2 separate regions of the Homo sapiens genome follow, and region 2 is linked to region 1. A link means that fine-mapping ties the variant in region 1 to the expression of a gene that starts in the linked region. Tissue or cell type: blood mononuclear cells. Region 1 holds a variant in brackets; the other region holds the start of a gene. All regions are shown on one strand. Distances are between the middles of the regions.

Region 1 (8,177 bases):
CTCGCCTGCCTGGGCGCGCTCTGGCCGCATCGTGGCGCGAGTGGAGCCGGCGGACCCGGAGGCGCGGCCCGCTGCCCGCTGTGCCAGGAGCCCTTCCCCGACGGCCTTCAGCTCCGCAAGAACCACACGCTGTCCGAGCTGCTGCAGCTCCGCCAGGGCTCGGGCCCCGGGTCCGGCCCCGGCCCGGCCCCTGCCCTGGCCCCGGAGCCCTCGGCACCCAGCGCGCTGCCCAGTGTCCCGGAGCCGTCGGCCCCCTGCGCTCCCGAGCCGTGGCCCGCGGGCGAAGAGCCAGTGCGCTGCGACGCGTGCCCCGAGGGCGCGGCCCTGCCCGCCGCGCTGTCCTGCCTCTCCTGCCTCGCCTCCTTTTGCCCCGCGCACCTGGGCCCGCACGAGCGCAGCCCCGCCCTCCGCGGACACCGCCTGGTGCCGCCGCTGCGCCGGCTAGAGGAGAGCCTGTGCCCGCGCCACCTACGGCCGCTCGAGCGCTACTGCCGCGCGGAGCGCGTGTGTCTGTGCGAGGCCTGCGCCGCACAGGAGCACCGCGGCCACGAGCTGGTGCCGCTGGAGCAGGAGCGCGCGCTTCAGGAGGTGGGCTCCGGGGGCACACTCGGGTGAGCCGGGGCTGGTGACCGACCGCGCGCGAGCGGGCCGAGGACCTTGGACCCCCCAGTCTTCCCGGGTTGGGTCTTAATCTCCTCCTCTAACCTGAGGATCTTTGCGGTCCCTTCCAGCCTTGACAAGGTCATCTGCTGGCGGTGATGGAGATGGGAAGGGAGGAAGGAGGGACGTGAGAACAGGACAAGGACGCGAAGAGCGGGCAGGGGACCTGAAGCCGGGCCGGGGTCTATGGGGGTGTAGGCGGGAGGGAGCCGGGTTAGGCCCGCGGGGTTCCGGTAGCGTGGCTGCTGCTCCCGCCCGGAGGGTCACGCCGGTCTCAGCTCAGATTTGCCCTGGGCTGAGGCAGCAGCTTTCGATGGGTGTGGCAGGCGGCAGGAGGGCGGCAGAGGGCGACCGGGCACACAGATTCTCTGTCCAGCTGTTCCGGGGGCCAGTGGTGGGAGCATGTGAGCCGCGGCCTCTACCTCCCGCCCCCAGTTTCCTTTGGCCTCCAGCCCGGTCTTGGCGCCTCTGGCCAAGGGATTTTCCGTTTCTCCTGCCTGGAGCAGTGACTCATAAGACCTAGGGGATTTGCCCGGAATCCCCTTTTTTCCAGGCCTGGACTGTGGATGCAGGCTCTTTGGGAACAGTGATCCTCAGGACAGCTTAATGCCTCCTTGTGCAGTCACCCCTCCGCCGCCCACCTCCCAACCTAACTGGCTTACTCTCTGCCTCTTCCCCGCCGGAGGAAGTTCTCAAATTCATCTGAGCAACACTGAGACCAGCGGACGGCCCTGTACTAGGCCTCCTGTCAGAGACCCGAGGCAGACACCCAGTCAGCCTGCACGCCCCCCAGGCGTTCAGGAAAGGCACCAGCCTGGGCTGCAGGCACCTCTGGCATATTATGGGACATCGTGGCCACTCCAGTCCCACCTGATGCACAGATACCACTCCCCAGTCACCCCCTTCTCTCCCCTGGCAAGGCCTGGGACCCGAGTGTAGGGCTGTGGCCTCTGCCAGACCTCACACTCATGGAGGGTGTTGTCCACAGGCTGAGCAGTCCAAAGTCCTGAGCGCCGTGGAGGACCGCATGGACGAGCTGGGTGCTGGCATTGCACAGTCCAGGCGCACAGTGGCCCTCATCAAGGTCAAACACCCCTCCCTCAGCATGGAACAATCCACTCCAAACAAACCATGCCCATACCTACTGAGCACAAGTGTCCCCTGACCTGGCCCAGATCCAGGACAGGCTCAGTCTGGCCCCTCTGTCCCCTCAAGAGGGCCGGTGGGAAGCCGGGGTCAGGGAAGGAGGGGGGTACAGTCCGGGACGGTTCTTTGCCCTCATTGCCCCCTCTACTGTCGTCCTGTGCAGAGTGCAGCCGTAGCAGAGCGGGAGAGGGTGAGCCGGCTGTTTGCAGATGCTGCGGCCGCCCTGCAGGGCTTCCAGACCCAGGTGCTGGGCTTCATCGAGGAGGGGGAAGCTGCCATGCTAGGCCGCTCCCAGGGTGACCTGCGGCGACAGGAGGAACAGCGCAGCCGCCTGAGCCGAGCCCGCCAGAATCTCAGCCAGGTCCCTGAAGCTGACTCAGTCAGCTTCCTGCAGGTGAAGGCCGCTCTGGGGGCCACGGAAGGAACAGAAGCTGGGACAGGTGGGGTGGAGGGAGGAGGAGGCAGTGGGTGCATGACTTCCTGGCAGAGCTGCCTCCACCCCCAGCAAGGAGGAGCCATGGCCAGCAGCACTTTAATGGGCATTTGTCTGGCACAGGAGCTGCTGGCACTAAGGCTGGCCCTGGAGGATGGGTGTGGCCCTGGGCCTGGACCCCCGAGGGAGCTCAGCTTCACCAAATCATCCCAAGCTGTCCGTGCAGTGAGAGACATGCTGGCCGTGGCCTGCGTCAACCAGTGGGAGCAGCTGAGGGGGCCGGGTGGCAACGAGGATGGGCCACAGAAGCTGGACTCGGAAGGTGGGCACCGCCCCACGCCCCCCCGATGACTCACCCTCTGCCAGCCTCTCGCACAGGCCCCCAGGCCTGGCGCCCATCCAGAAGTGGAGGAGGAAAATTGTGCCTGGCACAGGGAGGAGCCCAAATCCTGCCAGTGACTAGAGCTGCCACCCTGTGGGGATCAATCAGCCCCTTGGACCTGGGGTAGAGGGGGCTTCTCCTAGCCCACCCTCTAGCTCCAGAGGGCTGTGGCCCGGGAAGCACATGGGGCAAGAGGCAGAACACAGGCAACGGGCATGTGTGTGAGCACAGCGTGCCACATCTGGGTGGTGCTTGCTCCCTGGTGGCTCTGGACTCTGGGAGGAAGTGAAGGGGGTAGGGATTGTAGTCACAGGTTCAGAGGGGGGCAGTCTGGGGGCGTTCTCACCACTGTCTCCTCTTCTACAGCTGATGCTGAGCCCCAAGACCTCGAGAGTACGAACCTCTTGGAGAGTGAAGCTCCCAGGGACTATTTCCTCAAGTGTAAGTGGACGCCCGTGCCCCCTCCACTCACACTGGGCCCTCCCAGGGCTGCTGGGCTGGTCCCAGCAGGGCCCTGGCACACAAGGGTTAGGATTCCTCTCCCCAGTTTGTGGGGAGAGCTAGGGCAGCTCCTGGGGTGGTCCCCGGCGGGGCTGGGTTGTGCCGGTTGGAAAGCAGGGGAGAGGCTGTGTTTTGGGGGGGTGGGTACTTGGGGAGGGGCCGTGCCCTCTGAGCCTGGCCCTGAGCCCTGCCTCTCTCTTCTGTCCACGGGATCAGTTGCCTATATTGTGGATTTGGACAGCGACACAGCAGACAAGTTCCTGCAGCTGTTTGGAACCAAAGGTGTCAAGAGGGTGCTGTGTCCTATCAACTACCCCTTGTCGCCCACCCGCTTCACCCATTGTGAGCAGGTGCTGGGCGAGGGTGCCCTGGACCGAGGCACCTACTACTGGGAGGTGGAGATTATCGAGGGCTGGGTCAGCATGGGGGTCATGGCCGAAGACTTCTCCCCACAAGAGCCCTACGACCGCGGCCGGCTGGGCCGCAACGCCCACTCCTGCTGCCTGCAGTGGAATGGACGCAGCTTCTCCGTCTGGTTTCATGGGCTGGAGGCTCCCCTGCCCCACCCCTTCTCGCCCACGGTTGGGGTCTGCCTGGAATACGCTGACCGTGCCTTGGCCTTCTATGCTGTACGGGACGGCAAGATGAGCCTCCTGCGGAGGCTGAAGGCCTCCCGGCCCCGCCGGGGTGGCATCCCGGCCTCCCCCATTGACCCCTTCCAGAGCCGCCTGGACAGTCACTTTGCGGGGCTCTTCACCCACAGACTCAAGCCTGCCTTCTTCCTGGAGAGTGTGGACGCCCACTTGCAGATCGGGCCCCTCAAGAAGTCCTGCATATCCGTGCTGAAGAGGAGGTGATGCCGGGCACGGGCGCTCCTGCTGCCGTCTCTGCTCCAGGAAGCTGCCTCCTCTGGGCCCTCTCCTTCGTCTGGGAAGGCACCAGCATGAGTCCCACACACCCAGCCTTCTCATTTCTAGAGGCTTCCACCTTTTTATACACTCAGCCTTCCCTCTCCCAGGCAGGAGGACCCCCAGACCCTGTTCCCCTGCAGACCTC[A/G]CTTCTGGGAGACAGAGCTACAGCTGGGACAGCTCCAAGCTACCCTAACCCCTCCTTTCCCAGGTTTCTAGAATAGTGTCTGGCATGTAGTAGATGCTCAATAAACACTTGTTGAATGAATGACTCCTTTTCCATCCTCTCTACCCAAGGATTCCCAGAACCGCTCTCATTTGTAAGCTGGCTGAGTGGGCAGGCAGGAGAGGGGCCGGAGCCCCTCGTCCCAGGATTCCTGTTGAGAGGGAGCCCTGGCCTGGGAGAAGGGGGCTGGAACAGGGTACCTGCCCTTTGGGGCACCCCCACTCCCTTTTTCCCAGCACGGGCAGCCAGAGGTGGCTTCTCCAGCCCCACTGCCGTCCTGGCTGCTTGAGTGTTTACTTGGGATGGCCTGACTCCCACCAGCTATTTTTATCTTTCATGCCGCAGCCTAGTTCTGGACCTGCCTTTGCTGTTTGTACTGTTTGTGCCCAGCATTAAATGCAGGCATCACCCCTCCAGGAACAGGGCAGGACCCCTGGGCGTGGGCAAGAGAGTTTTGAGACCTGGAGCTTCCTTCACACATAGCCCTCAGCCCACAGAGCCGGCCCAGGGTGTGGCTGGAGCCCAGAACATCTACAATAAGAGAACTTATGTCCTGGCCGGGCGCGGTGGCTCATGCCTGTTATCCCAGCACTTTGGGAGGCCAAGGCAGGCAGATCACTTGAGGTCAGGAGTTCGAGACCAGCCTAGGCAACATGGTGAAACCCTCGTCTCTACTAAAAATACAAAAATTAGCCGGGCATGGTTGTGGGTGCCTGTACTCCCAGCTACTCAGGGGCCTGAGGCAGGAGAATCACTTGAACCCGGAAGGCAGAGGTTGCAGTGAGCCGAGATCAATTATACCACTGCACTCCAGCCTGGGCGACAGAGCAAGACTCCATCTCAAAAAATAAAAGGACTTATGTCCCCCTCTGGAATCTTCTTGCCCTCCATGCTGGGGACACCTGTGACCTGTGCCCCAGGAGAGCCTCTGCCTCTCTTCTGGGAGGGCCCAGTGCCCTCTGCTGCCCTAGAACCTGAGCCAGGCCTGGGGCGCCCTGAGGCTACAGTCCAGTGTGTTTCCAGGCCCAGGCCAGCTCACTCCTGCCTGGGTTCTGTGTGGCCCAGGTGCACCCCAGAGAGGGGCTGTGGCCGAGGGCAAGGGCAGACAGAGAGGCCTCTCAGACAGACGCCCAGCTCAAGGTCAGGCGGGATAATGGGTGAGTTATGCAGCCAGACAGCAAGGCCATACAAGTCCAGCCCCAGCAGCCTCAGCAGCTAAAAATAGCCCCTCCCATAGAGCCTGCCTGGGCTCTAGCAGCCAGGATGTTGTTTTTCCGGGCGGGGCCTCCTTGCCCCTGGTGCTTTGTGTTTTCAACATCGTTCCCTTGGCAGCCATGGGTCCCCAGCTCACCCGGCAGTGAAGGGGCTGGTGGAGAAGGCTGCCCCGCTGTCCCCTTGGATGCTCCTTGGACCACCTACTACAAGCCTCCTACCTTGCAGAGGACCGCTCCCACCCCTCAGGCCACCTGCTGTCTCATCTTGTCCCCCAACTTGGCACTCCCTACCCCACAGGCGCCCCTCGCCAGGGAACCTTCTGGTCTCTGACCCTGCAGGAAGTGTTGGCATGTCCTGGAATGTGAGCTAGACAGGCCTGGTGCTTTCTTGGTGGAATTCAGGCATGACTAGTCACACCTGTGGCCACAGACACAGCCACTCAGCAAGCATGCCATCTGCAGAGTGGCCTGTAGCTCCAGAGTCTTGCGTGGAAGTTTGGGAAACAAACATCTCTTTAAAAAAATATTGAGGCTGGGCATGATGGCTCACACCTGTAATCCCAGCACTTTGGGAGGCTGAGGTGGGAGGATCACTCAAGCCCAGGAGTTTGAGATCAGTATGGCCAACATGGTGAGACCTCATCGCTACAAAAAACAAAAATAAAAAAAAAATTGGGGCCAGGCGCGGTGGCTTACGCCTGTAATCCCAGCACTTTGGGAGGCCGAGGCAGGCGGATCACGAGGTCAGGAGATCGAGACCATCCTGGCTAACATGGTGAAACCCTGTCTCTACTAAAAATACAAAAAATTAGCCGGGCACTGTGGGGGGCGCCTGTAGTCCCAGCTACTCGGGAGGCTGAGGCAGGAGAATGGCGTGAACCCGGGAGGCGGAGCTTGCAGTGAGCTGAGATAGCGCCACTGCACTCCAGCCTGGGCGATAGAGTGAAACTCCGTCTCAAAAAAAAAAAAAATTGGCCAGGCGTGATAGCTCATGTCTGTAATCTCAGCACTTTGGGAGGCCAAGACGGGTGGATCACGAGGTCAGGAGTTCAAGACCAGCGTGGCCAACATGGTGAAACCGTGTCTCTACTAAAAATACAAAAAAAATTAGCTGGGCGTGGTGGCAGGCGCCTGTAATCCCAGCTACTTGCGAGGCTGAGGCAGAGAATCACTTGAACCCAGCAGGCAGAGGTTGCAGTGAGTCGAGATCGTGCCACTGCACTCCAGCCTGGGAGACAGAGTGAGACTCCGTCTCAAAAAACAAACAAAAACAAAAAGCCAGCATGGTGGTGCACGCCTGTGGTCTCAGCTACTTGGGAGGCTGAGATGGGAGGGTCCCTTGAGCCCAGGAGGTTGGGGCTGCAGTGAGCCATGTTCATGCCACTATACTCCAGCCTGGGTGACAGGGCGAGACCCTGTCTCAAAAATAAATACATAAAATAAAATACATTGGCTGGGCGCGGTGGCTCACGCCTGTAATCCCAGCACCTTGGGAGGCCGAGGCGGGCGGATCACGAGGTCAGGAGATCGAGACCACCTTGGCTAACACGGTGAAACCCTGTCTCTACTGAAAATACAAAAAATTAGCCGGGCACGGTGGTGGGCGCCTGTAGTCCCAGCTACTCGGGAGGCTGAGGCAGGAGAATGGCATGAACCTGGGAGGCGGAGCTTGCAGTGAGCCGAGATAGCGCCACTGCAGTCCGGCCTGGGCAAAACAGCGAGACTCTGTCTCAAAAAATAAATAAATAAATAAATAAAAAATATAAATAAATAAATAAAATACATTTTAAAATGTAGAGACGGGGTTCTGTACCCTGCCTGCAACAAGCATTTTAATCCCATATCCCTGTATTGCAGCTTTGCAGCTCAGAGCCAGGGATTGGCTGGCCCCTGGGTGCACAGCTAGCAAGGGGCTGGCTCTTCAGATCCCAAGTTTCAGACTCCGAAGCCTGGAGTGTTAGCTACAATCTCGCATTTCCTTTGTCACCCTGGAGTGTGAGAGTGTGTGTGTGAGTGTGTGTGTGTGGTCTGCATGCCTATGTGTTTTGTGTGTATGCGTATATGTGCGTATATCTGTATACATGTGTGTATGTCTTCGTGTGTGTCTGTGTGCTGTGTGTGAGTGTCTGCCTGGGTGAACGCCTGTGTGTGAATGCATGTTGCTCCAGCCCAGTGACTTTTCCAACAATGCTCTGAGAAGACCTAGGAGGAGGTGCACTGAGCGGGGTGGGCTGGGGAAAGGCTGGGGGAGGTCCCTCAGCACCCCTGCCAACACCTTAATCAGAGAAGCATTTGCCTATTTGATTCAAGGCTCCTTTAAAAAAAGAAACTGTGAAAAAGAAAAAAATGAGAAAACCACCGATCTAGTCTCAACGTTCCCCTCCCACTACCATTTACAGAGGAAGAAACTGAGGCACAGGGGTACTGGGGGGGCTGCCCACTGTTACCCAGTCCAGAACACTCTTTCCATACCGCCCAGCCTAGGTGTGTCTTGTGCTTAGAAATGCCTAAACAAGCCAGGCGTGGTAGCTCATGCCTGTAATCCCAGCACTTTGGGAGGCTGAGGTGGGTGGATCACTTGAGATCAGGAGTTCGAGACCAGCCCCGTCTCTACTAAAAAATACAAAAATTAGCCGGGAGTGGTGGCACGTGCCTGTAGTCCCAGCTACTCGGGAGGGTGAGGCAAAAGAATCACTTGAATCTGGGG
Region 2 (8,172 bases), 32 kb before region 1:
CTCACCTGCCCAAAGCCCAGCTCAGCGGGTACGCAGTGGAGGCGACAAGGAACCAATCACAACTACAGAGGTTTCTCTGATCCTCCTCCACTCCCGCTGCTTCAACTTGACTAAGCTTAAAAAAACTGCTTTTGCCATGGCTCATCGGAGTTTATACTTATTTCTTAGAAAATGTTTCCTGTTATTTGCTGGACAAGTCCCAAAGAACAGGCAGATGTTCTTATTAAAAGATCAGCCTATAAGATTGGTCAGGACCAGGCGCCTCTGGCCACGTGCCTCTCCCCTCCAGCACCTGCGGTCTGCGGTGGCACCTGGCAGCTGGACCACAGCCAGGAGAAGGGTACTATTAGCCCTGCTTCAAACATGCAGAAACTGAGGCCCGGGGAGATTAAATAACCTGCCTGAAATGACAGTGAGTAGCTGCGCCTGGATTTGAGTTCTGCTCTGGCCAATCCCCAAGCTCCACGCTGTCAGCCACCCCGCTCTCCTACCTCCCAGAGGAGCAGGCTACACTCCTGGTAGGTGCTGGTGTGGGAGGAAGATCTTTTCAGGCGCTTCTGGGGCTGGTACCAACACTGAGGAGGGAAGTATCACATGCCCCATTGGAAGCCTTGGTTAAGTCTCAAATTTGATTCTCCACAAAAGAGACTCAACCAGTCCTGAGGCAGACCTGTGCAAAGAGCTGGGGGGGTCTAAGGATGGGCACGTCGGCCCAGGGGCAGCTGGTATCTAGGCAGCCACCTGCAGGACCTGCAGGTGATCAAGCACATACATCGGGGAGGGCGGTGCTGGGAGACCCACAGGGGGAGAGCATGGCCTTCAAGACAGAGTAGGGAGAAGAGGTTAGAATGAGAGGGCTTTGCATATCTTGTTAAAGACGTGCAACTTTTCAGGGCAAATTTGTCTGAGGGCAAATTTTCAGGTCTTCACTAGAAGATTTTAAACAAGGTTGAACCATATTTGTATTTTAGAAAACCCATTGGCCAGGCACGGTGGTTCACGCCTGTAGTCCTAACACTTTGGGAGGCCAAGGTGGGTGGATCACTTGAAATCAGGAGTTCAAAACCAGCCTGGCCAACATGGTGAAACTCTGTTTCTACTAAAAATACAAAAAAACTAGCTGGGCATGGTGGTGTGTGCCTGTAATCCCAGCTACTTAGGAGGCTGAGGCAGGAGGATCGCTTGAACCCGGGAGGCACAGGTTGCAGAGAGCCGAGATTGCACCACTGCACTCCAGCCTAGGCGAGAGAGCAAGACTCCGTCTCAAAAAAAAAACAACAACAAAAGAAAACCCATTGTGTCTGCAGGGTGGGGACCGGACCAGAGGGGGCAAGAGTGGGACAGAGGATGTGTGGGAAGGCAGCTGGCAATGGTGCAGGGGAGGGACTGTGGGCAAGACTACCGGGCATGGCAGGGAGGGCCCACAGAAAAGTGGCCCTCGGGCCTAGTGCCAGTCATGGAGGATCAGAAAGGAAGACGTGTTGAGGACGCCCAGGTTCCTGGCTTGGGTGACTGGGTGGTGTCACAGATGAGTATACAGTGCCGGGGGGACAGCCAAGCAGAGACATTCCACAGGCACTCAGTTATAATGGCACTTTACTCAGTGTAAGCACTCAGCATTCCTGTCACCGCCATGAGGGTGTGGCAGGCATCCTAATTATCCCCTTCAGCCTTCTCCCAGGCCACAGACACTGGAGAGGGCTGAGTACAGAAATGAGTGTTGTGTAGCTGCAGCTCTTTTTTTCCTTCAAAATTGTAAACAAGATCATAACCCAAGTGCTTCATTCAGTTCCTTTTAGAGAGAGAAATATTGCGGCCGGGCGCGGTGGCTCACGTCTGTAATCCCAGCATTTTGGCAGGCCAAGGTGGGTGGATTACCTGAGGTCAGGAGTTCGAGACCAGCCTGACCAACGTGGTGAAACCCCGTCTCTACTGAAAATACAAAAATTAGCCGGGCGTGGTGGCGTGTGGCCTGTAGTCCCAGCTACTTGGGAGGCTGAGGCAGGAGAATCGCTTGAACCCAGGAGGGAGAGGTTGCAGTGAGCCGAGATTGTGTCACTGCCCTTCAGCCTGGGTGACAGAGTGAGATTTTGTCTAAAAAAAAAAAAAAAGAAAAAAAAGAAAAAGAAATATTGGTGGAATGTAATGGGTAAAACATACTGGTGCAGGTGCCGGGCGCAGTGGCTCACGCCTGTAATCCCAGCACTTTGGGAGGCCGAGGCGGGCGGATCACGAGGTCAGGAGATCGAGACCATCCTGGCTAACACGGTGAAACCCCGTCTCTACTAAAAATACAAAAAATTAGCCGGGCGTGGTGGCGGGCGCCTGTAGTCCCAGCTACTTGGGAGGCTGAGGCAGGAAAATGGCATGAACCTGGGAAGCGGAGCTTGCAGTGAGCCGAGATCAGGCCACTACACTCCAGCCTGGGCGACAGAGCAAGACTCTGTCTCAAAAAAAAAAAAAAAAAAAAAAAAAAAAACTGGTGCAGTGGTACACACCTGTAGCTGCTATCAGGAGGCCAAGGTGGGAGGATGGCTTGAGCCCAGGAGTTCAAGACCAGCCTGGGCAACATAGTGAGACCCCCATATATTTTTTTAAAATGGTAGAGCCACTGCTTCTAGTTTCAAGATATTCATCGTTATTTGCTTCAAGTTGGTACACGTGGGAATCCACGTGAAGCCTCTCTCAAACTGTTAATATCCAAGCAAGCGCCAATCAGGGTTCTAGGACAGCAAGAGGACAAGAATGGAGGAATGCACCGCCACCTGGGTGGCCAGCAGCTTCCACGCCAACTGCCAAGGCCCCATACATCTTCATCTGGAGAGGGCTGGGAGGGTCGTGGGGTAGAGCGGGTGGGTTTAGAGGCTGAAGAAAATGATTCAGAAACAAAAGGACAAGGTGGCCGGGTGCAGTGGCTCACACCTGTAATCCCAGCACTTTGGGAGGCCGAGGTGGGTGGGTCACCTGAGGTCAGTAGTTTGAGACCAGCTTGGCCAATATGGTGAAACCAAGTCTCTACTAAAAATACAAAAAATTAGCCAGGCGTGGTGGTGCATGCCTGTAATCCCAGCTACTCGGGAGGCTGAGGCAGGAGAATCACTTGAACCTGGGAGGCGGAAGTTGCAGTGAGTCGAGGTCGTGCCCCTACACTCCAGCCTGGGCGACAGAAACTCCATCTCAAAAAAAAAAAAAAAAAGGACAAGGTAAAACAGCCACGATGTAAACACACAATCCAGTTATGCTCCTGTACTGCATAACTGCAGTATGGAATGTCACAATAAGCAACTCCTTACGAGCAGGACTGGGTGTGACTGCCCCACGTATTCCCCTCCACACTTAGCATGTAGCAGGTGCACACTGCTGGGTGGATTAGAAATGACTGTGAAAGGTTTAGCTGTTTGGCTGCTGTTTATGAAAACCAGTGGAAGGTGTGGCCACTTCCTGCTGGATGGAGAGACCCTCATTCCATTCTCATTCCATCTCAAAGTGATTGTGAGGGTCAAGCTTCTGCTGGTGCCAGAGCCACTGGCCTGGTCACCACCAGCCCTGGCCTGGGATGTCAGAGCAGGCTTCCTGGAGAGACCCCTCTCCTGGGGCTGGGTGGTGGCCAGGCCAAGGTGGGGCAGTGAGGAGGTGAGAGGCAGAAGACACAGCGTATACAAAGGCCCCGTGGCCTGGAGGCAAAGTGCGATGGAAAAGTCTTGCCTTTTAGGGCAGGAGGGCCAGGGCTGGGGCAAAGGAGGGTCCCAGATTCCCCAGGCTACCAAGTTTTGCCATGGTAGAACTGGATCACAAGGGCAAGCCTGAGTCCTGCCAGAAACATTCACATCTGCACTTAACCAGGTCACTTCTGCCTTTGTGTGGATAATGAGAAGTTGGAGATAGTTGAGCTAACACACAAACCACTGCGAGCGCTTTCCAGAGGGTAATCTTTTCATCCTGACAGCTGTCAGGTAAGCACTAGTGTTAACCTGCTTTTTCCCAAATGAGGAAACCACAAGGAAGACAGTAAGGTCACGATCTGGTTTTTTTTTGGGGGGGGGGAGGGGCATTTTGAGACGGTGTCTCACTCTGGCACCGAGGTGGTGGCGCAATCTCGTCTCACTGCAGCTTCTGCCTCCCGGGTTCAAGTTAATTCTTGTGCCATAGCCTCCTGAGTAGCTGGGATTACAGGCGCCTGCCACCACGCCCGGCTAATTTTTGTATCATTAGTAGAGATACAAAAATTTTTGTATCTTTAGGGTTTTGCCATGTTCGTAGGGCTGGTCTCAAACTAATTACCTCAGATGATCCGCCCACCTCGGCCTCCCAAAGTGCTGGGATTACAGGTATGAGCCACCGCGCCCAGCCACAATCTGGGTTTTTATTACTATTATTTTATTATTATTATTATTATTGAAATAGAGTTTTCACTTTTGTCGCCCATGCTGGAGTGCAGTGGCGCGATCTCGGCTCACTGCAGCCTCCGCCTCTGCCTCCCAGGTTCAAGCGAGTCTCCTCCCTCAGCCTCCCGAGTAGCTGGGATTACAGGCGTATGCCACGCCCGGCTAATTTTTGTATTTTGAGTAGAGACGGGTTTTCACCGTGTTGGCCAGGATGGTCTCGATCTCCTGACTTCGTGATCCACCCGCCTTGGCCTCCCAAAGTGCTGGGATTCCCGGCGTGAGCCACCGCGCCCAGCCCTCAATCTGGGTTTTAAACCCAAGCAGAGTCCGGAATCGGAGCTCGCACCCCTTCTCCCAACCAGGCCTGCGTCCCTGGGGAAATCAGGACGCAGCGTCCAGGGGTTGGAGGAGGGCCCCGGCGGCCGACCCCGGTCTGTGCCGCCCCCTGGTGGCCAGCCATGGGCGAGCATATGACTGCTCTCGGCTCCGCCCCGCCGTCCAACGGGCACTTCCGGAGCCGGGCGTCTACAGACCGCGGCCACCTTCCACCTGCGCCCGAGGCAGACGGTGCAGGGGCCTCCGGGACAGGCGTCTGAGGCCTGCTCCGCAGCGCGGGCCCGGGGGCGGGCCTAGGGGCGGGGCCTGCTGTGGTGCGCTCAGGCACCGCGCTGGCCACCTGTGCCCGGGTCCTAGTGGCGGCCGCAGTGTCGCAGGCCGGAGGGAAGATGGCGGCGCCCTGGTGGCGAGCCGCGCTGTGCGAGTGTCGGAGATGGCGGGGCTTCAGCACCTCGGGTGAGGGGTGGGCAGCTCTGCGGGGGGGGGGGGGGGGGCTGTCGCCCGAGCTGTGGGGCGCCGGCCTTACGTCTTCTCTCTGCCCGCAGCCGTCCTGGGCCGCCGGACACCCCCGCTGGGGCCGATGCCCAACAGTGACATCGACTTGAGCAACCTGGAGCGGCTGGAGAAGTACCGGAGCTTCGACCGCTACCGGCGCCGAGCAGAGCAGGAGGCGCAGGCCCCGCACTGGTGGCGGACCTACCGAGAGTATTTCGGGGAGAAGACAGGTGCGGGGCGACTGGAGCAGGGGCTGCAGCCACCGCCCGGGGAACTCGGGACCCGCCGGCGTTTTCCCCGGGCGCTGGGCGAGCCTTGCCGGCGCCCTTGTGGATGCTGGGGACGCTGGGAGGGCCTGCCTGCAGACCTGTGTGCGCTATCGGCAGCTTAATCACCCCAGGATTTTTCACACCTTCTGCACCTCATTCTTGGAAAATTCGCTCCCCCTACTATTAGAGTTCCAGCTCCTAAAATATTTGCTCCTAAAATCTTGACCACCTGACTTTCCGGATTGGGATGCCGTTCTGTGCGCCTCAAATACTCTGTAGGTAACTCTGGCCACACTGCATTCTGACTGTGCGCTGCCTCTCCCCAGATTGTAAGCGCCCTGTTGACAGGGATCCTGCTTGTCTTGCCCTCCATTGGATCCTTGCACCCGAACAGTGCAAGGATGTACATGTGCAATACTTTGCTGAATGAAATTAAAGGCCTGGGCAGGGTGACTCAAAAAAGAACCCAACCTGGCCGGGCGCGGTGGCTCACGCCTGTAATCCCAGCACTTTGGGAGGCCTAGGCGGGCGGATCACCTGAGGTCGGGAGTTCGAGACCAGCCTGACCAACATGGAGAAACCCCGTGTCTGCTAAAAATACAAAATTAACTGGGCGTGGTGTCGCATGCCTGTAATCCCAGCTACTCGGGAGGCCTCTGAGGCAGGAGAATCGCTTGAACCCAGGAGGCAGAGGTTGCGGTGAGCCGAGATCGCGCCATTGCACACCAGCCTGGGCAACAAGAGCGAAACTCCGTCTCAAAAAGAAAAAAAAAAAAAGACCCCAACCTTTAAGGAACTTACAATTTATGGAGTATATGCTTTTCTTTTCTTTTCTTTTCTTTAGCATTTATAGAGGCAGTTTTGTGGTGGTTAAAGGCACAAGCGTGGAATCTAAATAGCCCGATTTAAATCCTAGCTCAGCCTCTCGGATAATGTCCTTGAGCTTGTTTCAACTGTAAAATAAAATAATTGTGTCTTTGCTACAAAATTGCTGTGAGGATTAAAAGAGGCAATTCATTGGCATTTTTGCCTAATGCCATCTCTGATGAGGGCTCAGTATGTTTTCGTTATTATTATTTTGTTTTGTTTTGTTTTAAGGCAGAGGCTCGCTCTGTTGCCCAGGCTGGAGTGCAGTGGTGCGATGACTCACTGCAACCTCTGCCTCCTGGGTTCAAGCGATTTTCCTGCTTCTGCCTCCAAAGTAGCTGACACTACAGGCATGCGCCACCACGCCCAGCTAATTTTTGTATTTTTAGTAGAGATGGGGTTTCACCATATTGCCCAAGCTGGTCTGAAACTCCTGACCTCAAGTGATCCCCCTGCCTCAGCCTCCCAAAGTGTTGGGATTACAGGCGTGAGCCATAGCACCTGGCCGAGAAGCACTTCTATAAGTCCTTCTAGCATCAGTCATTCACTCTACCTAGGACAGCTGGGTGTTCATAGCCACCTGTGAACAGGCTTGGAGGTGATCTCAACTATAATTGGAAGGACCATTGACTTCAGTTTCCCATGACCTAGACAAAACTGTGACCTGGTTTGGGGATCAGAAAAACACAGCCTCCAGCCTAGCCAACATGGTGAAACCCCGTCTCTACTAAAAATACAAAAAAAATTAGTCGGGCATGGTGGCAGGCGCCTGTAATCCCAGCTACTCAGAAGGCTGAGACAGGAGAATTGCTTGAACCCGGGAGGCAGAGGTTGCAGTGTGCCGAGATCGCGCCACTGCACTCCAGCCTGGGCGAGAGAGTGAGATTCTGTCTCAAAGAAAAACACAACCTCAAGTTGTATCTGATTTGCTTCCCAGTTACATCCTATTCAGGTCTGGGAAGTAGACTGCACAGTATGTTTTAATTCTGTGAATCACAGGGAAAGCTTGAGCAGCAGAGCTTGAAGCACAGAATGAGAGGACTAGGTAGGGACAGGCAGTTTAACCAAGAAGATGTGCCCGCCCCCTCACTGGGTGCAGTGGCTTGCGCCTATAATCCCAGCTACTTAGGAGGCTGAGGCAGGAGGATCACTTGAGACCAGGAGTTTTGAGACCAGCCTGAGCAACATAATGAGATCCCATCTCTCAGATTTTTTAAATTAGCTACCATGGCTGGGCGCAGTGGCTCACACTACTGTAATCCCAACACTGTGGGAGGCTGAGGCAGGCAGATCACTTGAGCCCAAGAGTTCATACCAGCCTGGGCAATGTGGCAAAACCCTGTCTCTACAAAAAATACAAAAATTAGCCAGATGAGATGGTGTACACTTGTAGCCCCAGCTACTCAGGAGACTGAGTTGGGGAGGTTAAGGCTGCAGTGAGTCATGACCCTGTTTTTCCCACACATCTTCCCACTCCAGATCCCAAAGAGAAGATTGATATTGGGCTGCCTCCACCCAAAGTCTCCCGGACCCAACAGCTACTGGAACGGAAACAGGCCATCCAGGAGCTTCGGGCCAATGTGGAAGAGGAGCGGGCTGCCCGCCTCCGCACAGGTAAGCCTTCTCAGGGGAGGGGCCATCCCAGAGTTGGGGTACAGGGTGTGTCCCTGCCCCCCCCACCCCCGTATCCCAACTGGCCTTATTCCTGTCTAGCCAGTGTCCCGCTGGATGCCGTGCGGGCCGAGTGGGAGAGGACCTGTGGCCCCTACCACAAGCAGCGTCTGGCTGAGTATTACGGCCTCTACCGAGACCTGTTCCAC

Evidence for each region. PIP is the estimated chance that this variant, and not a neighbour inherited with it, causes the effect.
Region 2: it holds the start of MRPL38, and the variant in region 1 is fine-mapped to the expression of MRPL38 in blood mononuclear cells (TOPMed, PIP above 0.99).

Annotation. Positions count from the first base shown.
Region 1 is chr17:75,870,285-75,878,461 of GRCh38, reverse strand. TRIM47 (tripartite motif containing 47) reads left to right here. Exons shown (of 6, transcript NM_033452.3): 1 at 1-588; 2 at 1,649-1,744; 3 at 1,970-2,200; 4 at 2,363-2,561; 5 at 2,988-3,062; 6 at 3,339-4,298. The coding sequence ends at 3,979. Among named protein-coding and RNA genes, the nearest start is that of TRIM47, 4.2 kb to the left of the region's middle. RefSeq lists silencers at 1-46, 177-556, 567-746 and enhancers at 1-506, 507-1,422, 2,233-2,302, 1,423-2,338. The variant A/G (reference allele first, on the strand shown) is at 4,179.
Region 2 is chr17:75,901,814-75,909,985 of GRCh38, reverse strand. MRPL38 (mitochondrial ribosomal protein L38) reads left to right here and starts at 5,102. Exons shown (of 9, transcript NM_032478.4): 1 at 5,102-5,177; 2 at 5,267-5,446; 3 at 7,832-7,966; 4 at 8,066-8,172. The coding sequence starts at 5,111. FBF1 (Fas binding factor 1) reads left to right here. Exons shown (of 30, transcript NM_001319193.2): 30 at 1-412. RefSeq lists silencers at 4,697-5,176, 5,187-5,236, 5,257-5,306.